Linked DNA regions of Homo sapiens: region 1 is linked to region 2. Evidence: fine-mapped expression QTL. A gene starts in region 2. The other region holds a variant in brackets. All regions are shown on one strand. Distances are between the middles of the regions.

Region 1 (14,160 bases), 93 kb after region 2:
TCAAGCGATTCTCCTGCTTCAGCTGCCTGAGTAGCTGGGATTACAGGCATGTGCACCACCATGCCCTGCTAATTTTTAAAAAATATTTTTAGTAGAGACAGGGTTTCACCATGTTGGCCAGGCTGGTCTTGAACTCCTGACCTCAAGCGATCCACCTGTCTCGGCCTCCCAAAGTGCTGGGATTACAGGTGTGAGCCACTGCGCCTGGCTGAATCAGAAGAGTTTTGTTGGGGGCGGGAAATAATCACAAATATAAAACCAGTTCAGAACCGTGGCCATTTGAATATCCAGAGGAAACAAGAATTATCTTGAATCTGGTGTGTTATGGGGGTACAAGTTATTGTAAAAAAATAAACTAACTAGAGGAAATCAGGGTGTTGGAGCTGGCTACCTCCACAGGGCTCAGTCCCTACCCCTCGCTTGGCCTGCCTGGTTGAGGTCTCTCCTGGGACCTGCATACTTGATATCACACAGTGCCCAATCGCCAAGAGAAAAAGGAAAGTCTGTCCTGAGCTGACTCCATCGCTGAGGCTCCTGAGAAAAGAAGGGTCAGGCTACCTTTGTACGTTGGATGCTGCTTCTTTTTGGTGAGAGCAGGTGACTTGCTGGGAGGAGCCAGTGCTGTGGGGCCGGGGACATCAGAGAGGTCGTCTCCCCCGAGTTCACTGTCCGAGACTCCAGGCTGATTGAATTCATCCACCAAGTAGTCTTCATCGTCTTCAAGAATATCCCCTGGGAGAAGGAAATGAATCACAATTCGGGTGAAAACAATGAGGGGGAAAGGCTCAGTCTTCCATCAGTGGGACTGGTTCAGCTCCTGTCAGGACACGTGCACCCTGCCCTGCAGCTCAGGGCCCAGGCGCCAGCAGGGACGGTACCCCAGTTCCATTGGTACACCCACAGCCCTGATATCCTCATAGCCACTGTTTGTAGCCTAAGTTTAGATGCCTCGGGTCCCAGGTAGCATGGCATGCATCGTCCACACATACAAACATGCTCATCACATGGGACAGAGGGCTTGCCCTGCGGGTGTCCTCCGTCACTTCTGCAAGGGAGGCTTTAGAAGGTGTCCTTAAAAGCTCAGGCCTGTTGCTAGAAGAACGGCTTGCCTGTCCCTCCCTGCAGGGTCACTAACCTTCTGACTCATAGTCCAAACTTGTGAAGTCAAAGTTTTCCTCCAGCAAACAGGAGTTGGCAGTGGGAGACACGGGGGCCATGCTGTCTCGTTTCCGAATGATCTCCTCTCGCAAACCTTTCAGCCAGTCCTTGGTCTTCGGTCTAATCTTCACTGCTCTGCCTTTCACCTGGGAGGGCAGAGCGGCCACCCAGGAATAAATAAAAATCATGACCCCTCCTGTTGATCACACAATGCTTCTCACCAAAACCCACACACCCTCAACGAGGCCAATCTTCACATTTGGCCCTGAAAAACCAAGGGTCCAGACCTCACGCAGGCTCAGCATAGCTCTCATACATCTGGTTGAAAAAAAAGTTGAACTGGGCTGGGTGCGGTGGCTCACACCTGTAATCCCAGCACTCTGAGAGGCCGAAGCAGGTAGATCCCTTGAGGTCAGGAGTTTGAGACCAGCCTGACCAACACGGTGAAACCCGATCTGTACTAAAAATACAAAAATTAGCTGGGCGTGGTGGTGAGTGCCTGTAGTCCCAGCTACTCGGGAGGCTGAGGCAGGAGAATCGCTTGAACCCGGGAGGCGGAAGCTGCGGTGAGCCGAGATTGCACCACTGCACTCTAGCCTGGGTGACAGAGCAAGACTCCATCTCAAAAAAAAAAAGTTGAACTCTCATCTCCAGCTTCCCATTTGGTACAGATTTAAAGCCAAGATACTATAAAAACGGAAACTATCTATGAGCTGCATATTCCAAAATACATACTCTAAAGAGAAAGACTGGAATAGTCTCCCACATGGCAGTGCGAGCATAGACAGATCAAGTAACTCGGCGAGAACTACACTCTAAAATGGCTAAGCTTCTGCAGCTGCTGGTAGAGCTGCCTTCCAACGTGAGACACAGTGACTGACATTCTTCTTCCCCATTCTGTTTGTTTGGTTTTTTGAGACAGGGTCTCGCTGTCACCCAGGCTGGAGTGCAGTGGCACGATCTCAGCTCACTGTAACCTCTGCCTCCCAGGTTCAAGCGATTCTCCTGCCTCAGCCTCCTGAGTAGCTGGGACTAGAGGCACGCGCCACCATGTCTGGCTACTTTTTTTTTTTTTTTTTTTTTTTTTGGAGACAGAGTCTCACACTGTTGCCTGGGCTGGAGTGCAATGGTGCGATCTCGGCTCACTGCAACCTCTGCCTCCTGGGTTCAAGTGATTCTCCTGCCTCAGCCTCCCAAGTAGCTGGGATTACAGGCACCTGCCACTATGCCTGGCTAATTTTTGTATTTTTAGTGGAGACGGGGTTTCACTATGTTGGCCAGGCTGGTCTCGAAATCCTGACCTCATGATTTGCCCGCCTCAGCCTCCCAAAGTGCTGAGATTACAGGCGTAAGCCACCACACCCAGCGCCTGGCTAATTTTTGTATTTTTACTAGAGACAGGATTTCGCCATGTTGGCCAGGCTGGTCTCGATCTCCTGACCTTGGGTGATCTACCCACCTTGGCCTGACAAAGTGCTGGGATTACAAGCATAAGCCACTGCGCCCACCCTTCCGCCCTATTTTGCAAGTAGCTAGAGCCGGACATGAGACACCTTAGAACCAGAGTGAAGAATCCAAACTCCCTCCCGCATATGGCGTCTATACATAAAGACAGATTGGTGGCCAGGCATGAAAGCTCATGCCTGTAATCTCAACACATTGGGAGATCGAGGCGGGAGGATGACTGGAGCCCAGGAGGCTGAGGTTATAGTGAGCCATAACTGTCCCAATGCACTCCAGCCGGGGCTACAGAGTGAGATCCTCTCTCTACAAAATTTAAAAAAAATTAGCTGGGTGTGGTGGCACGTGCCTGCGGTCCCAGCTACTTGAGAGGCTGAGATGGGAGGATTGCTTAAGCCTGGCAGTTCAAGGCTGCAGCGAGCTGTGATTGCATCACTGTACTCCAGCCTGAATGACAGAGCAAGACTTTGTCTCAGAGAAAAAAAAAAAAAAAAAAAAAAAAAAAAAAGGCACAGGTCAGGGCAAGAGGAGGAAGAAGACATGCCCACATAAAAAGAGGGATTGATCAGACCCCACTCCACAGTGTGGCCAAGTACAGCGTACCTTCATACCGTCCACGTCCAGGACACTGAGAGCCGAGTGACTGTCTGCAAAAGTTACCAGCATCTGCCCTTGGTTGATCCTGGAATAAATGATACTCCAAGTCAATGCCAAGAACGACCTGGCAGCTCTCACGGATCCTCATCGACATCCCCTGGAACCCACATCAGCCAGGGGAGCAGTTACCTGACAAGAACAATTGTCCCATAACTCCCCAAGGTCTGCATGAGCTCAGTACGCAGGTCCTCTGGAAACTCGTTTTTCTCTTCTAAGGTCGGTGATTGAAGGTTTACTACAACAGTGGCATCCAGGGGGCCCTGGAAGGAGGACACTTCCTGGAAAACCCTCTCCCGAGCACCCACATCGACTTCCTGAACTTCCACCTCCACGATCGCCAGCACAGGTCTGCGTTAGGAACAAAAGAGGGATGACAGTTAGCCTGGGACAGATGTCCACACCCCCGGCCTCCAGTCCCCAGTTAGCCTGGGACAGATGTCCACATCTCCAGCCCCCAGTCCCCAGCTGCTGTCCCCCAGGGCTCTTTGTAAACAGTCAACACCAACAACCTGCGAATGTGGCCACCAGCAGGTGGATTTGCAGGCTAGCTGCCCTGCTCTGGCGTTTTAGTCTTCATCTTTCCTTAACCTTAGTATCACCTTGGCATTTTTATCTAAAGATGATTTGAGGGGGAAAATAAAGTGT[G/A]GCACCTTAAAGATGTATCCCAGTACTTGGAAAATAACCAGCCATCAGCAAAGATTTTTGACATGGTAATCCTCAGTACCACCAAGGAGGTGGGGAAGCAGACATCTGCACTCTGCCAGGGGTGCAAGCTTTTCAGAGGGTTACTTGGCACTTTACATAGAGTTCCAAAATTGTTCATCTCTTTTCACCTAGTAATCTCACTTCTCGGACTTTATTCTAAGGAAATGACCAGGGATTCAGACAAAGATTTAATGCATGAGGTTGATCATTTACAGCATTGTTGATGGGAGGGAAAAAAAAAAAGGGAAATGCTCGTTTTTTTTTTTTTTTTTATTTTGAGTCAGAGTCTCCCTCTGTTGTCCAGGCTGGAGTGCAGTGGCGCGATCTCAGCCCACTGCAACCTCCGCCTCCCGGGCTCAAGTGATTCTCCTGCCTCAGCTTCCCAAGTAGCTGGGATTACAGGCGCATGCCACCATGACCAGCTAATTTTTGTATTTTTGGTAGAGATGGGGTTTTGCTGTGTTGGCTAGGCTGGTCTTGAACTCCTGACTTTAGGTGATCCGCCTGCCTCAGCCTCCCAAAGTGCTGGGATAAAGGCGTGAGCCACTGCGCCAGGCCAAAATGCTCTGTTTCTTAATGGGGAAACAGTTATGATACCTTCATATAATACCCTACGCAATCATTAGGAATAATGTAAAAATCAATGATGTAAACAGGAAAACAGTCCAGCAGGAAATAATGCAATCCTTATAGTAATTCTGACACAGGGATGGTTATTACTCTATAAATTTCCAGAAAATCCTATATTACGAAAATTACACAGCCTGATTGAAAATAGCTCGACTCTGGCCTGACTCCTGCCACTACTTTTTTTCTTTCATAGCACACATGTTTGTTTATTGTCTGTTTGTCCTGTCCAGAAAATTCCATGATAACATGGTCTCATCTGTTTTGTTCACTGCTTTTCTCCAGGCCAGCAACAGGGCCTGGCATGTAAGGGCCCCTCAAGAAATATTGGTTAAATTAAGGTTTCAAAATACATTGAGCTAGCAAACCTTGATGTCACATATCTGAAGATTCCTCAAGATTCACTTCTAGGTATGTATTTGCAACAACAGGTATCTAAAGAATTTAGAATTATCTAAAGAGTCTGGGCATGGTGGCTGTAATCCCAGTACTTTGGGAGGCTGAGGCGGGCACATCACTGGAGGCCAGGAGTTGGAGACCAGCCTGGCTAACATGGCAAAACCGTTTCTACTAAAAATACAAAAATCAGCCGGGCATGGTGATGCACGCCTGTAATCCCAGCTACTTGGGAGGCTGAGACATGAAAATCACTTATACCCTGGGGGTGGAGGTTGCAATGAGCCAAGATTGTGCCACTGCACTCCAGCCTGGAGGACTCTGTCTCAAAAAAAAAAAAAAAAGGTTTTTTCGTTGACCAACTGTTCTTACCTTCTTTTTCTTAATTTCTTTCCTTGTAAAAGTTGAAACTGACATGAGAGTTTAGGCAGCAGCCTTGGGAAGATCAAACTCTTCCTTCTTCACACCCTCAAATGCCATCCTCTCCTCTGTCTTTAAAGACATTCTGCAGGGTGAGTCTTCCTCTGCAGCAATCCCAGGGCACAGGTGCTGGTGCCCACGGTGCTCCCTCTGCTGCCTCCACTCTATCCTCAATGCATGATGCACAGAGCATTTAAAAAGCCCTGCATCCTAGGGCCAGGTGCGGTGGCTCACGCCTGTAATCCCAACACTTTGAGAGGCCAAGGTGGGTGGATCACCTGAGGTCAGGAGTTTGGGACCAGCCTGGCCAACATGGTGAAACCCCGTCTCTACTAAAAACACAAAAATTAGCCAGGCATGGTGGTGTGCACCTGTAATCCCAGCTACTTGGGAGGCTGAGGCAGGAGAATTGCTTGAATCTGGGAAGCGGAGGTTGCAGTGAGCTGAGATCACACCACTGTACTCCATCCAGCCTGGGCAATAGAGCAAGACTCTCTCTCAAAAAAAAAAAAAAAAAAAAGGTTGTGCATCCCAGATTTAAAAACCCTATGGTGTTTGTAATCATAAAATCCTGGAGAAAATATTCATCAAGAGGTGAATGGATAAGTTGTAAGTTCCATGGATATATTTAGTGGGATACTAGACAGCAGTTACAAATGAATGCACCAGAGCTATAACATCAACACGACTGTATCTCAAAAATAGTAACAAAAAAGCAAGTTGCACAACGACATCATTTAAGAAAATATAAAAGCCGCAAAATACGTAGGTTGCATCTTTGAAATTTTCATCAATGATGTCATTTATGATATGGAGCAATGACAAAATGCTAAGATTAATTAGTTCTTGGTGGTGGGTCCACAGATATTTGTTCCATCATTCTTTGTTCTTTGGTGTATTGTATGCACACAAAATGCACCCCCATGCGCACACACATCCTTATGGGGACAGCATGCATTTTCCTGCGGAGAGGGAGACGCTGCCTTGCCCAGCACAGGAGAAAACGCCATGGAAGTCAGGACCTCACCTGTGATCAGACGCTTGTAGCTCCGCACGACCATAATACTGCAGGGCACCAGGAGACCAGGTGTGTCTGACTTTGGTGTCAACATCTAGATCACTGTCTAGAAGGTTGAGTTCTCCAGCTACTCGCAGGGGTTCCATTCGAGAGACCCATATAGAATCGAGTCAATATCCAAGAATGCGATCATGACACTTCCACAATAGAGGTCTGCGCCACGAACCACCCCACGTCCCAGACTCATCCTCCTTACTCCTCCACCTTGAAGCCAGGCTTCGGATGCTTTGGGGCCTTTGGTTAAAAACATTCCTCGCATATAATTATTCAAAACAGTCATGACCATGCCTGCAGTCCTCGCCAGCATGCCCACTGTAGGCTTGAGACACAGTGTTGCTGCCGGGTTTCCAGGACCCAGGAATCCCAGAAGGTTGGCAGCAATTGGTATGGTAAGAGCTGCAGGAGCTGAGAACACTCGGACTCATTCTAGGCCCCACCTCTCAGAGCGCTGGGGCCACACAGGCGTTCACAAACTCATCTAGAGGAAAATTTGTATTTTCTTTTCACAGATGCAATTTCCTGGCTATGCTCTCCCAAAATGTGTAATTAGGTTTTTTTTTTTTTTTTTTTTTTTTTTTTTATGTACTAGTTACAGATATTCTAACTTTAAATAAACTTCACTTCCTAGCTGGGCATCAACAGTTGTTCAAAACATACTTGACAACTAATGATTTTTAAAAACTAACTTATTTTTACTGTGTCTTGCTCGTGTCCAATTTGGAATTAGGGCTTTAAGCAGGTAAAAGTGTAGCTGAACAAAATAGGCTGGATAAAGAACATGAGGGGGAGCATGGGGGGCAGGGAGGGAGGCAACCTCATGCTCCCCGCTTTCCCCACCCAGAAAAAAGAGGTGGGGGTGTGGGGGGGAGCTGTGATGCAGGGGCAGCCAGGAGCAGACCTATTTGCAGGTCACTGTCTCTAGAAAGAGACCAGAGGAGGCCAGGCGCAGTGGCTTATGCCTGTAATCCCAGCACTTTGGGAGGCCGAGGTGGGCAGATCACCTGAGGTTGGGAGTTCAAGACCAGCCTGACCAACATGGAGAAACCCCGTCTCTACTAAAAATACAAAATTAGCTGGGCATGGTGGTGCATGCCTGTAATCCCAGCACTCAGGAGGCTGAGGCAGGAGAATGGCTTGAACCCAGGAGGTGGAGGTTGTGGTGAGCCAAGATCACGCCATTGCACTCCAGCCTAGGCAACAAGAGTGAAACTCTGTCTCAAAAAAAAAAAAGAAAAGAAAAGGGAAAAAAAGAGGCCAGAAGCAGAGGCTCCCTGAAAGCACAACTTCCAAAGCTTAGGGGTTAAGGTCTGGGATGACTTTTGTGTCATCTGGGGTTATGAAGAAACTGATTTATGTAGCAGCGCCTGGGGTTGGGTAAACGTGACTCTCCCTCCGTCGCATTTCTTATTCACCCTCTGCCGACTCTCGAACGGGCACGGCCCCCTCACCTGTTTTATCAAAGGGATGTTTCTTCCTCCACCACAGCACCCTGTCTGTCCAGGCGGGGGTGCGGCATTTGTCGCTTGTATCGTAGGCGGCTGAGCCAACGTCATACTTGTAGGTGGGTCCAAAGTTAATGGCTCCTTCGTGAAAGTCCTTAAAAATCTATTGGGAGAAAAAGAAGTCATCAGGCCACCGTAGTTTTCGATCCTGAATGTTATATACAAAAACGAAAACTGAAAAGGCAAGTCCCTATTCTTAAAAAGTAACAGAAGCTCCATTACATTTGAAAATCTATCTGAAACTGGACATATGTGTCTTTTAATTAGCAAAAAAGTGATCCTCAGCTCATCCCACTGAGGGACACACCGCCCTCGTATCTATCTCCCCACCCACTCCAGTGTCTGATCTATCCACTGTCTTCTTGTTGCCCCCCAGGAGACAGTGCAGGGTCCGAGGCACGGGTCAGGGGTGCTCATCTTTACAGTCCCATGCCTGGTGCCATGTCTGGCCCACAACCCCGAGGCCTTCATCTATGTTTGTTGACTAAATGAGCTAAGTACATAGAAGCGCAGAGTGAAAGTCAGCTCTCCTCTCTCTCTCCCCCTGGGGTCTCGCTCTTTTGCTCAGGCTGGAATACAGTGGTGCAATCACGGCTCCCTACAGCTTCAACCTCTGGGGCTCATGTGATCCTCCTGCCTCAGCCTCCCAAGTAGCTGGGACTACAGGCACGCACCATCATGCCTGGCTAATTTTAGTTTTTGTAGAGACAAAGTCTCCCTATGTTTCCCAGGCTGGTCTCAAACTCCTGGGCTTAGGCAATCCTCCCGCCTTACAGTCGTGAGCCCCCATGCACATCCTTCTTTTCTTTGTTTAACTTTGGATTGGCCTTGCTTCCATGGGAAGACCAAGGGACAAACACACCCTCATTCTCTTGGGCATCACTGAGAGGATGTGAGAATGTTGGTAGTAGGAAGACAGGAAAACCTGCTTTAGGAGGTTGGTATGGTCACTCGTCCATGTGGCAACCCTTTAGCACTCCACACACTGGAAGGGGCTCAAGTGGGAAGACACAGTAAACCTCGAAGAACGTCCAAATCTTGCTTCAGGAGAGACCTTATCTGCCCTGTCCTCACACTTTTTTTTTTTTTGAGACGGAGTTTTGCTCGTTGCCCAAGCTGGAGTGCAGTGGTGCGATCTCGGCTCACTGCAACTTCCGCCTCCCAGGTTCAAGCGATTCTCCTGCCTCAGTCTCCTGAGTAGCTGGGATTACAGGCGCCTGCCACCATACCCAGGTAATTTTTGGATTTTTAGTAGAGATGGGGTTTCACCAAGTTGGCCAGGCTGGTCTTGAACTCCTGACCTCAGGTGATCCGCACGCCTCGGCCTCCCAAAGTGTTGGGATTACAGGCAAGAGCCACCGCACCTGGCCCTCACACATTTAACCAGCTTCTTTCTCCACAGCTAAATGGAATTTAAATGTACTCCCCTCATCTCAGCTCATCCTGCTAGGAAGCAAACAGGCACTAAAATAACAGTATTAGAAGGAGGAGAAGGTTGACCGGGCATGGTGGCTCATGCCTGTAATCCCAGCACTTTGGGAGGCTGAGGCGCACAGATCACCTGAGGCCAGGAGTTCGAGACCAGCCTGGCCAACATGGTGAAAACCCGTCTCTACTAAAAATACAAAAATTAGCCAGGTGTGGCGGCACACGCCTGTAATCGCAGCTACTCGGGAGGCTGAGGCACAAGAATTGCTTGAACCCAGGAAGGTGGAGGTTGCAGTGAGCCAAGATAGTGCCACTGCACTCCAACCTGGGTGACTGAACAAGACTCTGCCTCAGGAAAAAAAAAAAAAAAAAAAAAAGGACAGGAAGTGTGTATGAACAGCCACTCCTGTACTGTAACCTCACAAGCCCACCTATTTTCTACAATGTTGGAAACAGTGAAATCCACTCACGGAACTGAATTTGCTGCACCAGCCTCTACATCTCACAGATGTCATTCCATCTTGGAGCAGCTGCTAAAAAATGTTTTTAAAGCACAACTTACTTTTCCACTTGATTTCTGTAGCTGTAGTTGATCAAATTCCAGAAGTTTCTTCCAGTCTTGGCGTTTAACAAAATAGAAGACTTCTTCATAAGTAAGATCAATGCGGTAGTTGAAATCGCCACACCAAAATACATAATCATGAGAAAAAACATTTCTCCCCTAAGTTGAAAAGAAAATCATAATCATTCAGCCCATCTTGCAAGGAAGGTGGGAGAGAGGAGAAAAACAAGCTCACTGGGGCAAGCAGGAGTATTTTTCTCAAAATGCTACTTAGAAAAAAGAAAGTTTTCTACTAGAGCATCTTGTTTTTCACTCATCCCATAAAACTATGGAGGAATTTTTACATGGCTTACTTTTTAATTTTAAATAATAGTGTTTCTGAGTGGTTTGAAGAAAGCTCCTACCCTAAACGGAGGAGAGCAACATGGCCAGCATTTCCTCCATGGATCCCCGTCCTGAAGATCAGATGCACCCTTACTTTGGAGTGTCTACTCCTAGGAAGCAGCACCCAGCATTCAGCGTTAGGAGAATGAGGTTTCAAAAGAGCAGCAGAAATGCTCAGGATGTGCACCTTCATGTAACTTCCTGAGCTTTTTCAGGTGACCCTTCTCCATCTCTCTCTAGCTCCTCCTTCCCATCCTGCCCAGTCCTAGGAGCCCACGGCCCCAGCTCAGCCCCGGAGAGCTCCTGGGGTCCTTGCCTTCCCTGTCTCTTCCCCAGGAATGGGGAAGACAATGACAGCAGCTGCTGTGGATCAACTGTCCGCAAGGGCTGGGCTCTGTTCCAGGTGCACAAAGCAGATACCACCAGCTCTCTCTTAGATTAAAAAAAAAAAAACAAAGTTCAGAAACAAAGGCACTTGCTGAAGGTTACACAGCTAGTGCATGATACAGATGGGATTTCAGCTCCCATCTGCCTAGCTCCAAAATCAGCTTCTCTTCTCCTATAATATGAGGCATTTCCACTCCCCCCATGACAATAATCTGGACAGAAGATTAAACAGGTCCCAACCAAATAAAATGAGCGTCTAGATAACACTGTCAGACAGAACTTTCTGCAGCACCGAAATGTTCTCTGTGCCATCTGATGCAGGAGCCACTGGCCACATGGATACTGATCATTCTCACTGTGGCCAGGGAAAGCAAGGAATTTTAAATGTTATTTAATTTTAATTAATTTGAATTTAAATAGCTACTTATGGCCAGTGACTACGGTATCAGACAATACCAGTGTAGAATGTTGGCCAGGCACCATGGCTCACACCTGTAATCCCAGCACTTTGGGAGGCTGAGGCAGGCGGATCACTTGATGTCAGGAGTTCGAGACCAGCTGGGCCAACATGGCGAAACCCCATCTCTACTAAAAATACAAAAACTAGTTGGGCCTGGTGGTGCACGCCTGTAATCCCAATTACTCAGGAGGCTGAGCCAGGAGAATTGCTTGAACCTGGGAGGTGGAGTTTGCAGTGAGCCAAGATCATGTCACTGCACTCCAGCCTGGGTGGCAGAGTGAGACTGTCTCAAAAAACAAAAACAAAAAAGAAGTGTAGAATGTTAATAGGTCCCTCAATATTTTTATGGTAGAAAAGAACTACATTATAAATCCTTTAATTACTTATTATGTATCCCAAGTTTACTATGTCAAAGTAGCACTTTTTTTTTTTTTTTTTTAGACAGAGTCTCGCTCTGTTGCCGAGGCTGGAGTGTAGTGGTGCGATCTCAGCTCACTGCAACCTCTGCCTCCTGGGTTGCGATTCTCCTGTCTCAGCCTCCTGAGTAGCTGGGATTACAGGTGCACGCCACCACGCCTGGCTAATTTTTTTTGTATTTTCAGTAGAGGTGGGGTTTCACCACGTTGGCCAGGCTGGTCTCGAACTCCTGACCTCAGGTGATCTGCCCGCCTCGGCCTCCCAAAGTGCTGGGATTACAGGTGTGAGCCACTGTGCCTGGCCCCAAAGTAGCTATTTTTAAGTGAGAAGGGTTAGACTTTTTTTTTTTTTTTAAACTGCATTACACACAATTGAAAATTTCCCAACTCGTTTGTTTCTTTTTTAACATAAGAAATAAACAACACCAACAGGAATTATGGCACTTCTTAATGAAAACTAAGGAAATTTTGCCTTGAGTGCTCGTGCAGCCCAGTAAAATGGGACGTCAGTTTTAAGGATCTGTTCTCACAGGGAAGAGCTCTGTGACCCAACCCACCACCTCTCAGACAGTGGAAGATTTTGCAGCAAGAACAGCTGAAGTCTATCCTCACTTCGGGAAAGAGGTGGCCTCGTGTGCACCACACGCTGAAGCTGTGCCCGGGTAGCATCTTTGCACAGGAAGGAGAACATTAACGTCTAGATTTGAAAAGAAAATCCTCCAGTTTCAGAATGAAACCCTCCGGACCGCCACGAGAGGGCAGTGTGCGGTTCGCTATTGCAGCTTCGAGGACAGGCAGGATCTGGGCTCCTTGGTCAAGAACCGTGTTCCCAGTCAAAAAGGGTCCATTGGTCAAAAGGGTGTGCTTATCTGAGCCACCACAGAAAGTACATGTGAAGACTGTGAATCTCAGGAAGGTGGAGTCTTAGGCTGTGTGGATTCAAATGCTCTTCACCACTTGGACAGGACAGACCACGGACATGGTTTTCTTCCCTAAACCATCACTTGAATTAGAAAATCAGAAAATGCACACATACAAATCCAGTGGCCATGCAGACACTCAGGAATTGTACAGCAACGGGAAATGCTGCAAAGCTGGCCCCCTCCAGGCACGTGGCTAACCCTGCCCCAGGTCAATTCCATGGAGGGACATAGCCCTCTCCCCCTCCCCCAGCGCTGAGCCCTCCAGGAAGGGGCCCTCCCTGTGGTTGTGTCCCCAGTGCCTGGCTCCTATCAACAGTCACATTTGGGACTGAGCTGAGCAGGGAGGTGCTGGCTGTCCCCACGGCGCCGCTCACCATTGGGAAGCAGAGTTTCTGGGTGATCTCCTTGTAGTCTTCATTCCGCTCCTTCACCTGGGACTGCCCGGCCGTCAGGTGACTACATATGAAGCAGAAGCTGGTGCTGTGGAACTGGAAGCGGATGCCGACGGCGCCCTTGTTCCCCGCCTTGCCCCCCATGCCCGTCTTCACTGTGTCGATGGCTACGTCCCTGGAACAGAAGGATACGCGCATGCCGTCGGCTCCTGAAGGAGAAGTGTGACCCTGCTTTGCCACAGAGAAGGGCCCAGCAGCAGCTCGGGACCTGCTGCTCTGAGTGCTCCAAAATCATCAGCTCAACACAGTGGCCACCGTGGCCGTCATCGACTCCTGGTCAGGAGGCCGCCTCCCTCCTGCTGCCCACCGCTGCCTGGACATCTCCCCCACACCCCAACTGGGAAGTGCTCACTTGAGCACCCCATGAAGCCGAAGACAGGGCAATGCCTGCATCCGCCCAGGTTCTCACTGCCACCAGGAGCGGCGCAAACATCACCACCCACCAGCCCACCCCACTCCTGTGCAGCCATCACGCCATGCATGGGAGGTGTCATCTGGGCAATCAACACATTTTTAAATTATTATTGTTATTTTGAGACAGAGTCTCGCTCTGTCACCCTGGCTGGAGTGCAGCAGCGTGATCTCAGCTCACTGCAACTGTGGCCTCCCAGGTTCAAGCAATTCTCCTGCCTCAGCCTCCTGAGTAGCTGGGATTACAGGTACCCACCATCACGCCCGGCTAATTTTTGTATTTTTAGTAGAGGCAGGGTTTCACCATGTTGGCCAGGCTGGTCTCAAACTCCTCACCTCAAGTGATCTGCCTGCCTTGGCCTCCCAAAGTGCTGGGATTACAGGCGTGAGACACCGTGCCCAGCAATCAATGCACTTTAAGAGCTAGGAAACGGGCAGCTGTTTATGCTGGGCTGGGTAGATGGTCTCAAAAGGACTTTTATGCAATGCCAGAGCCTGCTTGCATTCAAATGCCCACTTATGACGCATACGAGTCCATAGAAACATGGGCTGCAAGCACATTTGTTAACATTTCCACAGCCATGCCACAGACTGAGGCCTGCTGGTGCATCTGCTCGCTGGCAGACAAGGTTGGGGGGATGACTGATGGAAGGGGTGTAGGCGGAAGCAGCTCAGGGCTAAAGGCACGTGAAGCCGAGGACACCGAGCCTGGGAAACCTGGCTCTCCTCAGCT
Region 2 (15,499 bases):
TTGGAACCAACCCAAATGTCCATCAATGATAGACTGGATTAAGAAAATGTGGCACATATACACCACGGAATACTATGCAGTCATAAAAAAGGATGAGTTCATGTCCTTTGTAGGGACATGGATGAAGCTGGAAACCATCATTTTCAGCAAACTATCACAAGATCAGAAAACCAAACACTGCATGTTCTCGCTCATAAGTGGGAGGTGAACAATGAGAACACATGGACACAGGGAGGCGATCATCACACACCAGGGCCTGTGGGGTGTTGGGGTCTAGGGGAGGGATAACATTAGGAGAAATACCTAGTGTAGGTGACGGGTAGATGGGTGCAGCAAACTACCATGGCACATGTATACCTATGTAACAAAACTGTACGTTCTGCACATTTAACCCAGAACTTAAAGTATGATAACCACTGCAACCACAGATGCTGACCACATACTGTACCCTTCATGTGCTTTACCCAGCGCAGCCTGCATACCTTATCCCTGATGTCAATTCCCATGCTTTGCCTAATCAAAAAGTCCCCATCAGCTTTTTTGGGGGTCAGCCGCAGAGTTCTTACTACTGTACTGTCTCCCTTGCATTTGTGGATAAACCCTGAAATAAAAGCCTCATCTGGGAAAACTGTATAGCTCTGTGTTAATTTTTATTACATAGGGAGCCAAAGAGCCTGTGATCTGTAACAGCAATGTTAGTACCATAGCTACACTGCAAAGTTGATGGACTACAGAATATTTCTAAAACATCTTGCTCATAGTAGGTACTCAAATGAGCAATTAAAATGCCAAGACCATGTGAGAGGATATAGGCAGAGAGGTTTAAATTACAATTAGTTCTATCCCTATCAAATGATTTACTGTTGGGAACAGGCACCCCAAAATCTGGCCATAAACTGGCCCCAAAACTAGCCATAAACAAAATCTCTGAAGCACTGTGACATGTTCATGATGGCCATGACACCCACGCTGGAAGGCTGTGGGTTTACTGGAATGAGGGCAAGGAACACCTGGCCCACCCAGGGCGGAAAACCGCTTAAAGGCTTTCTTAAACCACAAACAATAGCGTGAGTGATCTGTGCCTTAAGGACATGCTCCTGCTGCAGATAACTAGCCCAACCCATCCCTTTATTTTGGCCCATCCCTTTGTTTCCCATAAGGAATACTTTTAGGTAATCTATAATCTATAATCTATAGAAACAATGCTCATCCCTGGCTTGCTGTTAACAAATAAGTGGGTAAATCTCTGTTCGGGGCTCTCGGCTCTGAAGGCTGTGAGACCCCTGATTTCTCACCCCACACCTCTATATTTCTGTGTGTCTGTCTTTAATTCCTCTAGCGCTGCTGGGTTAGGGTCTCCCAGACCGAGCTGGTCTCGGCAATTTACTATTTCAATTACAAAACCATTAACCTATGAATATATATGGTATAATTCTAAGACATACGTATATCCTTTTAAAAAGCAAACATAGGCTGGGCGCAATGGCTCACATCTGTAATCCCAGCATTTTGGGAGGCCGAGGTGGGTGGATCACGAGGTCAGGAGTTCAAGACCAGCCTGGCCAAGATAGTGAAACCCCATCTCTACTAAAACTTCAAAAATTAGCCAGGCATGGTGGCAGGCACCTGTAATCCCAACTACTTGGGAGGCTGAAGCAGGAGAATCGTTTGAACCCAGGTGGCAGAGGCTGCAGTGAGCCAAGATTGTGCCACTGCACTCCAGGCTGGGTGACAGTGAGACTCCGTTTCAAAAAAAAAACAAAAGCAAACACAATATTATACTTAGTTTTATAATGGAGAGATAGTATATGTAACGTTTAGTAGCCTGGGCTCTGGAGCCAGAATACCGGGATTTAAAATCCCAGTTTAACAATAGCTATGTAACTGAGCAATTGATTAATTGATACAAAGTATCTCACTTTGTACATCCATAAATGGAGATGACAGCACTTACCTCAAAGGGCTGTTGTGAAAACTAAATTAATATTAGCAAGTGCTTAGTATAGCACATGTCACATGGAAAACAGCGTTAGTACAGGAATCCAGGTGTTTTCACTTAACATCATTGTACAGTGTCATTTCCCTGAATCACTTAAAATGTCTGCAAATATTTTAACAGCTATATTATTTGATTAAAATATGCCACAATCAACAAATTTCTTTTTCTAGCACATTAAATACATACATTTTTATTGGCAGTTCTGATCATTTCCTAAAATTTTTTTTTTTTTTGAAATGGGGTCTCACTGTGTTGCTCAGGCTGGAGTGCAGTGGCATGATCTTGGCTCACTGCAACCTCTGCCTCTTGGGTTCAAGTGATTCTCCTGCCTCAGCCTCCCCAGTAGCTGGGATTACAGGCGTCCACCACCATGCCCAGCTAATTTTTGTATTTTTAGTAGAGACAGGGTTTTACCATGTTGGCCAGGCTGGTCTCAAACTCCTGACCTCAAGCCATCCACCCGCCTCAGCCTCCTGAAGTGTTGGGATTACAGGCGTGAGCCACTGCACCCAGCGATTTCCTAAAGATAAACTTATAGAAACGGAGTTATTGTGTTAAAGGATATAAAAGCACAAAACACCCATCACAAGTTGCTTACAGTTGTTTCTTGGGATTACACTTCCATCAGCAGCTTGGTGGGGTGCTTGCTTTTTAAAAGCTATGACTGGAAGACAACAGCCTCCTCATTTAAAAGCTATTTTGATATACAACATGCTAAAAGGAGGCCTAGTATACACATCTGTTTCAAACTAAAACTTTAATTTATCAAGAATCCCATCTTATTCACTGTGAATCTCACTGTAGGAATAGAGAGGCTCTAAAGGAACATTAATAAATTTGGGATTTTGGCTGAGATCACAAACCTGGACTCAATTCTGTTAACAAAATTTATTCAGTACACAAATATTTACTAAGCCATATCTATATATGTGTATGTGTGTGTGTGTGTATACACACACACACACACACACACACACACACACACATCTCAGGCACAGTTTTGGGTGCCTGGAAAACTTCAGCGAACATGGCCCTACTAAGAGGCAAAGGCTGAGAAAAGATTTATACATGCTGAGAAAAAAACAGAACAATGGTTAGACTGGTTTTGCCATACTTCTTACTTCGCTTCTCATAAACGATATAGCTTTAGAAGCCAAACTCATAAGGATAAGTGTAGTTTAATAATACATATTTCTCCAGATTCTTTGCTATTGTGATGTAAACTGGTTGGAATTTGCACCTTGGCAACAAATCTTTGCTGAAGCACTTGCCAAACCAATTGTGGCAACTGTTATACCAGAGGTCTGCTCCAGCATCTGGAACTGGACACAGACATACTGTGGTCATGTGTTGCTTGCTTTGGTAATTGCTTGGTGGCTAGATTTGGGAGAATACTTAGTGTGAGCCTGGCAATTGATGGTGGATCCCAACAAAGAGGAAATTTTCACCAACCTTTCAGTTTTGACATAAAAGTGCAAATTTATAAACATAAAACTTCTTTTATAGCCTTCAATTTTAGTATTTGATAAGCCCTTGGGAGTTAAGATTATATCCAAGTGCCCTGATTTTTCAATTCTCTGAAGGTGAGAATAAATGGCCATCATCATAATTTGGTTTACTTCTTTAGCAAATCTCTGCAGACTCAAAATCAGTTAAACTTAACTGATAGAAATGGAGTTTAAATATGGCAGTTAAGTGAAGCCAATCTAAGATATATGTGGATCAGCACTATATAAGCTATTACACATCAGTTTCTATTAATACAATGATGGGACTGGAATTTGGAGAGATTCCTGGGACAGTGGAAGCAGCTGTGAGATAGGAATTCAGCAGGACTAGTTTCCAAGACAAGAGAGACAGTAAACAACAGGTCAGAAGACCCCACCGATAAGCGAGGATACAGTAAAGAAACCAGCCAGAACCAAGATGGCAACAAAAGCAACCTTCACCACTATCATACACAAATCATAATGCATGCGCACGCTAAAAACCACCCCCACCAGCACCACGACAGTTTACAAATGCCATGGCAATATCTAGAAGTTACCCCGTATGGTCTGGACTGGGGACTCCTGGTTCCACAGAATCCCTGCCTCTTTTCCAGAAAACTCACGAATAATCCACCCCTTGTTTAACATATACTCAAGAAATGGCCATAAAATAGCCAGTTAGCAGGCCCGCCTGCTTCCCACCCTCCCCACTCCACTCTGCCTATGGGGTAGCCACCCTTTTATTCCCTCATTTTTAATAAACTTGCTTTCACTTTACTCTGTGGCTCATTCTTGAATTCTTTCCTGCATGAAGCCAAAAACCAACTTGGCTTCCAGGGCTGAGCCTCAATTTTGGTATTCACCTGCAACAGCTGTAGAAGATCCTTGAGTGGTCTGCCTGTAAACTCCAGACCTATCAAATTCCATACTCCAATACACCTAAATGCTTCATACAATCCATGGATATTATGAAGTAATAAACAGACTTATACTGATAATCATATTATTAACAGGCTTCTCCTTGGCATCAAATATGGACATGAGGGAAACTGAAGGACTTTTCCAGTTACCATCCTAACATCTGCATCTAACTGTGAAAGGGAATCCACTAGCACTGGCCATACCCTTTCCTTTGGGAATCTATGTTATTTCTTAGGCCCAAAATCTTTTTGGAAGACTTGTGTTTTTGGGAAGACAGAGTTACCCTTTTGAAAAATTGTGCAGACTACACTTTAGAATTCACTTCAAAGGGAAAAATTAGTTTTGCAAGGATGGTACCTAACCTGCAAAATAAAATTTAATAGTCCTGGTGCAAAACACTTCTCCACAGGGAAACATTATTAAACTGAAGCTGATTAACAGTATTATTGCTTCTCAAAATTTAAATGCATCTTAACAAGATTCTTTGTATGCACAATTCTGATTTAGTAGATTTAGGGTGAGGTCTGAGATTTTGCATTTCTAACAAGCTCCAGATGATGCTATTACTGCTAGTCTGGGGATTACCCTGAAGTGCAAGGTGATGGACAGTCATTAGAGAGACCAGGTAGAATTCAGAGGTTAGATACGGGACAGCAAACCGGGCACTGAGACTTCAGAGTCTCCCCAGAGTTTTGTTCTTTAAGATGCAATCCAGTCATCTTTTTTTTCAAATTAAAACGTAGGTTTAATGCAATTCCAACCAATATGCCAAAAGGATTATTTTGGAAACAGACTAAGTTATTTCAAGGTTATTCTAGAATAGGCAACAAGAAAGATGAATGTGGGAAGGGATGAAAGAGAATAGCAAGGGGAGTAAAATTATGTGATTAAGGAGGCATCAAGCATCATTAAGAAAGGAAATAATGGTGGAGAACTAGATATTTGGCAAAATGAACAGACAAAAACACCCAAAACAAAAAAGAAGCTAGGCTGGGTGCAGTGGCTCATGCCTGTAATCCCAGCACTTTGGGAGGCCGGGGCAGGTGGATCATGAGGTCAAGAGATCGAGACCAGCCTGGCCAACATGGTGAAACCCCATTTCTACTAAAAATACAAAAATAAAATTAGCCGGGTGTGGTGGTGTGTGCCTGTAATCCCAGCTACTCGGGCAGCTGAGGCAGCAGTATCGCTTGAATCCAGGAGCCAAGATCGCGCCACTGCACTCCAACCTGGCAACAGAGCAAGACTCCGTGTCAAAAAAAAAAAAAAGAAGCTAATTTAGATCCTTATCTAATAATATGTCTCTTCTCTGAATAAATTCTAGATGAATGAATCTAACACACCAAGAAAAACACAAAATCCCCACAAGAGAGAAGTGAATATTTAACAAACCTATGCCACTCCTCCCAATAAATTCTAGATGAATGAATCTAAAACACCAAGAAAAACACAAAACCCTCAGAAGAGAGAAGTGAATATTTAACAAACCCAGGGGTGAAGATTAAACTTAGAATTGGAAGAAACGAGGGAAAAAAAGTGATAGCTGACACTCTGTGTATGTGTATCCTCTGTATTTAAAAATAACACTAAAGGCCAACGAGGAAAATGTTTATGTTATGTCAAATTAATAGGAAAATAAGTACATCAAACCTAGTGCCTTCAAAAGACAACAGAACAGTGTGTTTAGAACTTCTGGGGTCCAGATCCCACCCCCTTTGCTTTTCCAAGTGAATACCTCTCCCCCGCAGTGGTTTACTCTCATCAACGTACATTCTAGTCTTTCACATTAAAATAAAAATAGCAAGAACCTGAGCCCCTCACCATGTCCTTCGTCAGCTACCAATCCAGTTCTCTATGAGATTGCTCATGATCACAGTAAAACTTCTCCGAAGTCTCCATCTCCACCTCCTCACCTCCCTTTCCTTTTCCACAGTACTTCAATCTGGCATCTCCCCACCACTCCATTCAAATGGCTCTCATCAAAACTCCAGTCTTCATCTCATGCCAGTTCTCAATCAGTGCCCAACACAGCCGCTCATCCCTACAAAACACTTCCTCCTTTGGCTTTCCTCCCTCCAGCCTCACTGGCTATTTTCTTCTTAGTTGCCTTTGTTGGTGTCTCCTGTATCAAAACTCCAAATCTGCACTATGCATAAGGTAGCCCACTAGTCAGGTCACTACAGAGTCCTTGAAACACGGTTAGTCTGTGAGATGTGCTGTAAAATTAAAATATCCATTCGACTTTGAAGATGAAGATTTTTTTGAAGACTTAGTATGTGTTCAAAGCATAGTGTTTTGCATAGACAGGGTTAAACAAAAGATATTAACTTCACCTGTTTCATTTTACGTTACTTTTAAGATGGCTAGAAAAAATGTAAGACTATATCTGTGGCTTGCATTAGATTTCTATTGGCTAGTGCTGTTCTAAATGTTGGCAGTGTCCTAGGGTTTGGTCTTGCTCCTCCTTAGCCTTGCCATCACAGTAAACAGTATCATTATCCATGCACTGGCTCATATTAGAGGCACCGAAAGTAGACAGTAGTATTTTCAGACAATGGGAGTGTCCACAGAGCAGGGTTCCCGGGGTTCCTGGACACTGGATTGCTTTGAGGAACTCAACTCTGCCCATTTATGGTTTTTAGTTTCTCCTCTGGAATGTACCTAAAGGAATTTAAGAAACCTCCATTTGGCTCTGTTGTTTTTCTCTTTTTTAAAGTCCACAGTTTGTAATGGTAAAGACTTAAGCAAGTTCCTGAACTCTTTCAGGCCCTAAAATTCATCATGTTTGAGGAGAATGCAAGCACTGTTTCTCTAAAGACGACTCATCTAACAAATATGCTGCCTCTGATCATGCCAGTTCCATCAATTCAACAGAGGGACTGAAATCTGGCACCAGGAGCTTTGCAACAAAATCTGTGCCACTTGTTAAAAGCGAAAGACTTGATTTCATCCATATCTTAAAAACAACAGGGTTTTAGAAAAGACATACATACAAGTCAAGATTCAATATTTAAACTTAAAACTCATGCAGTATCAAAACTACTAACCATTCTATAAGCACTCCTTTCAAGACGTTGACCATGTTTTCTCAGAAGGTTCAGATGACCTGAAGAATGCTAATAAAAAGAGTAAGGTAACATTAAATTAAAAATCATTAACTTTCATATACTTTGGGGATCTGCCTCTGAAACGAGGCAAAATAATTAAATGTCAATATTTAACAGTTAAGTCTATGAAAGACAGTTAACATTAAGAAAAAAGACATTCTGATTTTTTAACAAAATTAAAATGAGTCTACTTGGAATATTAATGCCACATCTTACTCGCCAGCCAATTCTACCCAAGGTCAATTAGCCCTAATAGAAGCAAGAGGCCTAACTCTACACCAGTGTGCCCAACCCAGGTATAAACCGTCCATTATTCAAAGGATTTCTTTTCCCATTCAGGAGAATGACAAAGGGTAAGATCCTGGGAGACAGGAATCAAAGAAGATAGTTCTGAAAGGTGCTTCAAAAATTATACAGTGAGCCCAACCACCTCCTTTTAGTTTATATTTTATTTTACTGAGACAGGGTCTGGCTCTGCCGCCCAGGCTGTAGTGCAGTGGCGCGATCTCTGCTCCCTGCAACCTCTTGCCTCCTGGGTTCAAGCGATCCTCCCACCTCAGCCTCCCGAGTAGCTGGGACTACAGGCATGCACTACTAAGCCCAGCTAATGTACTGTGTTGTATCGTGTGTGTGTGTGTGTATATATATACACACTTTTATATATAATATATAATATACAATATATAATATATAATATACAATATATTATATATAATATACAATATATTATATAATATATAATATACAATATATTATATAATATATAATATACAATATATTATATAATATATATTATATATTATATAATATACAATATATTATATGTAATATACAATATATGTAATATACAATATATTATATGTAATATACAATATATGTAATATACAATATATTATATATAATATACAATATATTATATATAATATACAGTATATTATATATAATATACTGTATATTATATATAATATACAATATATTATATAATATACAATATATTATATATAATATACAATATAATATATATAATATATAATATATATAATATACAATATATTATATATAATATATAATATACAATATAATATTATATATAATATATAATATACATATTATATATATGTATTATATATAATATACGTATTATATATAATATACATAATATACATATTATATATTATATATAAAATAAATATATATTATATATAAAATACATATATAATATATATATATGTATATATACACTTCGAGACAGAGTCTCACTCTGTCGCCCAGGCTGGAGCGCAGTGTCGTGATGTCGGCTCACTGCAACCTCTGCCTCCCGGGCTCAAGCGATTCTCCTGCCTCAGCCTCCCAAGCAGCGGGGACTACAGGCGCCCGCCACCACGCCAGGCCAAATTTTGTATTTTTAGTAGAGGCAGGGTTTCACCATGTTGGCCAGGCTGGTCTCGAACTCCTGATCTCAAATGATCCACCTACCTCGGCCTCCCAAAGTGCTGGGACAACAGGTGTGAGCCACCGCGCCAGGCCAATTTATTGTATTTTTAGTGGAGACGGGGTTTCACCATGTTGGCCAGGCTGGTCTCGAACTCCTGGCCTCAAGTGATTTGCCCGCCTCGGCCTCCCAATGTGCTGGGATTGCAGGCGTGAGCCACCGCGCCCGGCCTCAGCCACCTCATTTTACATATGAGGAGACCAAAGGAAGAGATTAAGCCGTAGTTCCTGGCCAAAGGAAAAAAGTACAAGCCAGATCTCCAGATCTTGTGCCCCTTCACTAAATAAATCACGTCCCGTGCGGACCTAGGCTGGAAACAAACCACTCAGCGTACGCCCATTTAATTAACTTCCACTTACACCTGGGCGCAGGGCGAGCCCTAGCCCCACAGGAAACCCACGATTAAACGAGGGGGGGACTGCCGTGCGGCCCCGCCAGGAAGGGCCCGGAGAGAGTGGGGGACACCGCCCTGTGCCCCCAGCACCCGGTGGACAGGCTTCTGGGGCTTTTCTCTTCCTCTCCCCTTTCTTTGGGACCCCTCAGTGTTCCCACACCCCACTTTCCCCAGCCGCTCGGACGCTCGCCACACACCTCGGCCCACAGATGCAGAAGCGCCTCGGCGTTGCCGGCAGAGTGCGCCTGCGCCGATACGCCATCGCGCTAGGGACGCTATTGTGGGTGGAGCCAGCCGGCGGGAGGCGGGCCCAGAGCGGGCCGAGGGGGCGGGGTCACGAGCCGCCAGCCGCCGGGTGGAGGGTCCCGGCCGGGAGCCGCGGAAAGAGTAGGGCTCCCCAGACAACGGGGTCCGACGAGCAGTTGGGCACGGGCTGAGTCCGCCTGCCGGCAGGTAGGACGTGAAGGCAGGGGTGGTGTGGGGGCGGACGGGGGCGTCGGCGCAGCTGGGCGCGGTGGGGAGCGGAGAATGGGGAGGGCAGGGACCGGGCACGGCCGAGCACCGCCGTCTGGCGCGCGGACCGGACCGACCAGCTGACGCTCGGCTGGGCGTGAGGGCCTCTCTCTCTGGTGGTCGCGAGCCTGACTCGTCTTTCCCTGTCGCTGCCTTTCTCTGGCTGCTGTCGAGGCCTTGGGGAGTGCACCTGCCGGTCCGTCTTCCCGGGCTCGGTAGTCACGGAGAGATGAGGAGGAGGAGGAAAGGGCCTCACCAGTCACTTCTGAGCCTTGCAGACCACCGCTTCCTGCTCCCTCTCTAACCCCAGAGATGGAATAGATTGAATGCTGAGAGAGCTCTAAACTCGGCAACGGTCATTTTAAAGTGAAAGACCCCAGAAGGTTCTAAAGTTACTCCCTTTCCCCAAGTCTGTTCTGTAAGTCTAAAGGAACACTGTCATTATTTTTACTAGTTGAGATATGAGATTCTTGTTTTCTGTTCCTTAGGTTAAATTGTACTTCCCGCATTAAGCTCATGCTGCCTTTTTTTTTTTTTTTTTTGAGATGGAGTCTCGGTCTGTCTGCCAGGCTGGAGTGCAGTGGCGCGATCTGGGCTCACTGCAACCTCCGTCTCCTGGGTTCAAGCAATTATCCTGCCTCATTCTCCCTAGTAACTGGGATTACAGGCGTGCGCTACCACGCCCGGCTGATTTTCGTATTTTTAGTAGACACGGGGTTTGTCCATGTTGGCCAGGCTGGTCTGGAATTCCTGACATCAGGTGATCCCCCGCCTCGGCCTCCCAGAGTGCTGCGATTACAGGTGTGAGCCACCGCGCCCGACCTCATGCTGCCTTTTTTTTTTTTTTTTTTTTTTTAACATCGTGTGTGTTCATGTGATCGCTAAGGAACCCAGCTCTTCCATTTAGTTCCCTCTTTCTATCCCTCAAATCTTTTCCAACTGGTGATTTCCATATTGTTGCACTCTCTTTAAAATAAAAAAATTGCCTCCAAGTCTTCTTCTTCCCAAGTATCTTTTATTTGCTTTTTTTCATCTTGCATACATTCTCTTCCTTGATCTCATCAGTTCCATTTTTGTGCACTTGATGTGTGTCAGCTATTATTCTAGACGCTTGGGATACAATGGTGAACAGGTAACTAATTTTGGTGGGGGCAGAGAGACTCTGAAATCAGTTAAGGAATAAGTACCATTTGGTGATGTGATAAAGAGTGACTAGAGGGGTTATTTTGGCCAGGGGGATGTCAGAAATGGCCTTAATTTCTGCATTTAAAAACTTCTGTATACCAGTAACAATTAACTAGGAGTTTTAATAATAAAAAGACACTATTCATAATGGCATTCAAAACTAAAGGTACCTAGAAATAGATGAACCTAAAGCTGTGTAGTCCTTTAGACAGAAAATTGTAAGGCTCTGTTGGAACACAAAAGATGACCCAAGTAAATGGTGAGATATACCGTATTAATAGATGGAAAGACTCAACAAAAAGATGTCAGTTTTCCTCAGTTCTACGAATTCAGTGTAATGCCAATTAAAATCACCATATTGTTTTATGGAATTTGCCATGCTGAACTTAAAATTTATATGGAAAGGCAAGGGACCAAGAATAGTGAAGTCAATTTTGAAGAAGAAGAAAAATAAGGTCTCTCCCTATCAGATACCAAAGCTTAATATAAAGTTGTAATTATTAAGATGGTATGATATTGATTCAGGGATAGAGAATTAGATTCATGGAACAGAATAGAGACACTAGAAACATACCTATTTACATACGGGAGTTTAGTATACCACTAAGTGGTATTGCAAAGCAGGGGGAAAGCATAGACTATTCAATAAAGGATGATGAAATATATGGTTGCTGAGATATCTGGCATTGTTATGGTATACAGACAGGATTAGATTCTTACTTTCAAACTATTGACAACAGTTTCCAGATAAAGACCTAAATGTGAATGGCACAGCTGCAAGGTATTTGGAAAGGAATATAAGAGACCATTGTCTCTAGGAAAGATTTCTTTTTTGTTTGCTTTGTTAAATCTTGTTACACATAAGATTTATCATGTTAACCATGTTGAGTTGTTGAGTTCAGTGACATTCACATTGTGCAACCAGCACTACTATCTATCTCCAGAACTTTTTTTTTAAATGTCTCTGAGAAGGATTTCTTAAGTTACAAAAAGCACCTTTGAGGTGTCATTTTATTACTCCAAATGAGAGATGATGTTGGCTTGAACTAGACAAGAGTGTAGCAGTGAATACAGAGAAAAATGGATGGATTTGGGGGTATGTTTTGATGGTAGAGAAGAGCAACTCTGCGTGGTTTAGATGTAGAGTAAGGGGAAAACAAGGAATCAAGGGCAACATCTGTTTTTTTGCTTCAGTTAAGAGGTAGATCATTTACCATTTACAATCAAAAAGCATTGACCATTTGATGGATAGTGATGGAGAAGATTTGTGGAGGAAGAGTTTGGGGAGAAAAAGTAAAGAATTCTCTTTTGGACAGTTGAGTATGAAAGGCCTGTTGGACATCCAAGTGGAAATGTTCCAATAGCTGTTGGATAGATAGGTCAGGAAAGATCGTAGCTAGAGGTACTCTGAGATCACTGGCATATAGATATTAAGAACTGGGCCGGGCACGGTGGCTCACGCTTGTAATCCCAGCACTTTGGTAGGCCGAGGCGGGTGGATCACGAGGTCAGGAGATTGAGACCATCCTGGATAACACGGTGAAACCCCGTCTGTACTAAAAATACAAAAAAATAGCTGGGCGTGGTGGCAGCCGCCTGTAGTCCCAGCTACTTGGGAGGCTGAGGCAGGAGAATGGTGTGAACCTGGGAGACGGAGTTTGCAGTGAGCCGAGATCGCGCCACTGCACTCCAGCCTGGGTGACAGAGTGAGAGACTCTGTCTCAAAAAAAAAACCAAAAAACAAAAAACTGTGGTGTGTTGGAATCAGCTGTGTTACACAGAAAACAAGATAATACTGGCTTAAATATGTATGTAATTGCATAGGTAGGCAGCCATGCTTTTATGGAAGCAGCTCTGTAATCATCAGGGACTCGGATTCTTCTATCTGGCTGCTCTACCGTCCTTAATAAGATGCTTGGTGTTAAGATGACTGCTTTAATTCAAACTGTCAGTTGCTCATTCTAGCAAGAGGGAGGAGGGAAGGAGGAAGAAAGGCACATACCCTTCTTTTTAAGGACACTTTTCAGAAATTGCACATGACACATCCACTCATATTTCATTAGCCAATTCTTTGTAAGTGCCCATAGTTAACTAGAAAGAAAGAAAGGTGATGTAGTCTTTTTTGTTGTCTGTGTACCTAGCTACAACTCACGTTTTATTAATCAGAATGAAAGCATGAAATGATGTTTCACTCTGGCTTCCTCCACCAGGGCAATGAAGCTACTGATATGAAGATCCCAGTGACCTCCATATTGTTAAACTTAATGGAATTTTCAAATATTTGTTTTATTTTTAAATTATAATCTCTTCCCTTTTATTTTCTGTGTCTTTCTTAGTCTCAAAATTTCTCCGTTCTCTACTTAAAATCAGTGTTTCAGATTTTATGTAATCACCGTCATAATATATATATATATTTTTTTGAGATGGAGTCTCGCTCTGTCGCCCAGGCTGGACTGCCGTGGCGCAATCTTTGCTCACTGCAAGCTGCACCTCCTAGTTTCACGCCATTCTCCTGCCTCAGCCTCCTGAGTAGCTGGGACTACAGGTGCCCGCCACCACACCCAGCTAATTTTTTGAATTTTTAGTAGAGATGGGGTTTCACCGGGTTATCCAGGCTGGTCTCGATCTCCTGACCTCGTGATCCTCCTGCCTCGGCCTCCCAAAGTGCTGGGATTACAGGCGTGAGCCACCGTGCCTGGCCCCATAATCTTAAAGGTGCTTTTAAATAGAAATTGACAAGCAGACTCTAAAATTATGTGGAAGTACCAAGGACCTAGAATAGTCCGTCTTGAAAAGGAAGGACACAGCTGGAAAATTTATACTACTAGCTTCAAGACTTACTTTAAAAACTACAGTAATCTGCCTGGTGCGGTGGCTCACACCTGTAATCCCAGCACTTTGGGAAGCCGAGGCGGGTGGATCACGAGGTCAAGAGTTCAAGACCAGCCTGGCCAAGATGGTGAAACCCTGTCTCTACCCAAAATACAAAAATTAGCCAGGTATGGTGGTGGGCATCTGTAATCCCAGCTACTTGGGAGGCTGAGGCAGGAGAATTGCTTGAACCTGGGAGGCGGAGGTTGCAGTGAGCTGAGATCAGGCCACTGCACTCCATCCTGCCTGGGCGACAGAGTGAGACTCTGTCAAAAAGAAAACAAAAAACAACAAAAAACCTACATAATCTAAACAGTGCAGTGTTTATATAAGGATAGATAAATAGATCGATGGAGTGGAATAGGTCCATACATATGTATTCCATTAGGGTTTTTTGTTTGTTTGTTTTGAGATGTGGGTCTCACTGTATTGCCTAGGCTGGTGTTGGGCTCCTGAGCTCCAGCAGTCCTCCTGCCTCAGGCTTCTGAGTAGCTGGTATTACAGGCATGTGCCGCAGATATAGTCAGTTGATTTGTGGTCTCAAGCAATCATCCCACCTTGGCCTCCCAAATCACTGGGATTATAGGCATGAGCCACCACACTTGGCCCTATGGTATACTTTTTATTGTTATTTTATAGTGTATTCATCTATTCCCTCTACTTATAAAAAAATAAAATTTACTGTAAAACAAGTTATGCTGGCAGCAACCTCATATATCTCGTGTAAAGGAAAGTTTAGAAGTTACATGTCAGCTTTTTGAGGCATTATAAACCATCCCAAAGGCTACGGGCTAAAACAAACATTTATTATTGCTTGCAGGCTAAGGACTGAATATGGATTTGTAGGGTCACCTAGGGGCTGGCTAGTTTGATGTGGCTTCACATGCCTGGCGGCTGTTGCTGGCTGTCAGTTGGTACTTGTTGGCTTCATTAATGGGGATATTGGACATTTCTCTTGTGATCCAGCAGACTAACCTAGGCATCTTTACATGGTGCTGGTCACAGGTTTCTCAAGAGCAAAAAGACAGGAGCCTCGATGTGCACGTACTTCCCAAGTCTCAGCTTGCATCATGCTTCTATTGTCCTATGGCCAAAGTTACTCGTAAGATCAATCTAAAGTCACCGTGGGAGGGGACTACCAAAGATCATGGTTATAGGAAAAGGAATAATTTGTGGCCATTAAAAAAAATCTGCATTTAAGACAAAAACTATGTGTAAAAAAAGCAGGCAAGTATGAAAGTGAGCCAACTGGAAGTTTTAGAAATAAAAGTTTTTGAAATACTCAGTGGATGGATCGAATGATAGTCTAAATACAACTAAACAGAAGGTGATGAATTGGAAGATAGATTTGGGGAAATTATAGTGCATGTCAGACAGATAGAAAAAAATGGAAGAAGTTGAGATTTGAAGGTTAGACTTTAAAAATCTAGCATACATCTAATAGGAGTATCAGAAGGTAAAAGTTGAATGGGGGTCAAAGTGGTAATTGTTAAGAATATTGCAGAATTGAAGAAAAATGTGAGTTCT

What was found. PIP is the estimated chance that this variant, and not a neighbour inherited with it, causes the effect. A credible set is the group of variants that fine-mapping cannot tell apart.
Region 1: its variant is the best candidate, but not a certain one, in a credible set for the expression of SERAC1 in whole blood (GTEx, PIP 0.84).

Annotation. Positions count from the first base shown.
Region 1 is chr6:158,070,573-158,084,732 of GRCh38, reverse strand. SYNJ2 (synaptojanin 2) reads right to left here. Exons shown (of 27, transcript NM_003898.4): 15 at 12,939-13,131; 16 at 9,995-10,153; 17 at 7,951-8,107; 18 at 6,452-6,569; 19 at 3,406-3,624; 20 at 3,223-3,301; 21 at 1,136-1,304; 22 at 559-732. Among named protein-coding and RNA genes, the nearest start is that of SYNJ2-IT1, 77 kb to the right of the region's middle. RefSeq lists enhancers at 12,443-13,004, 13,005-13,568. The variant G/A (reference allele first, on the strand shown) is at 3,922.
Region 2 is chr6:158,162,497-158,177,995 of GRCh38, reverse strand. SERAC1 (serine active site containing 1) reads left to right here and starts at 9,734. Exons shown (of 17, transcript NM_032861.4): 1 at 9,734-9,856. GTF2H5 (general transcription factor IIH subunit 5) reads right to left here and starts at 9,646. Exons shown (of 3, transcript NM_207118.3): 1 at 9,601-9,646; 2 at 7,458-7,526. The coding sequence starts at 7,492. RefSeq lists silencers at 9,647-9,826, 9,867-9,936.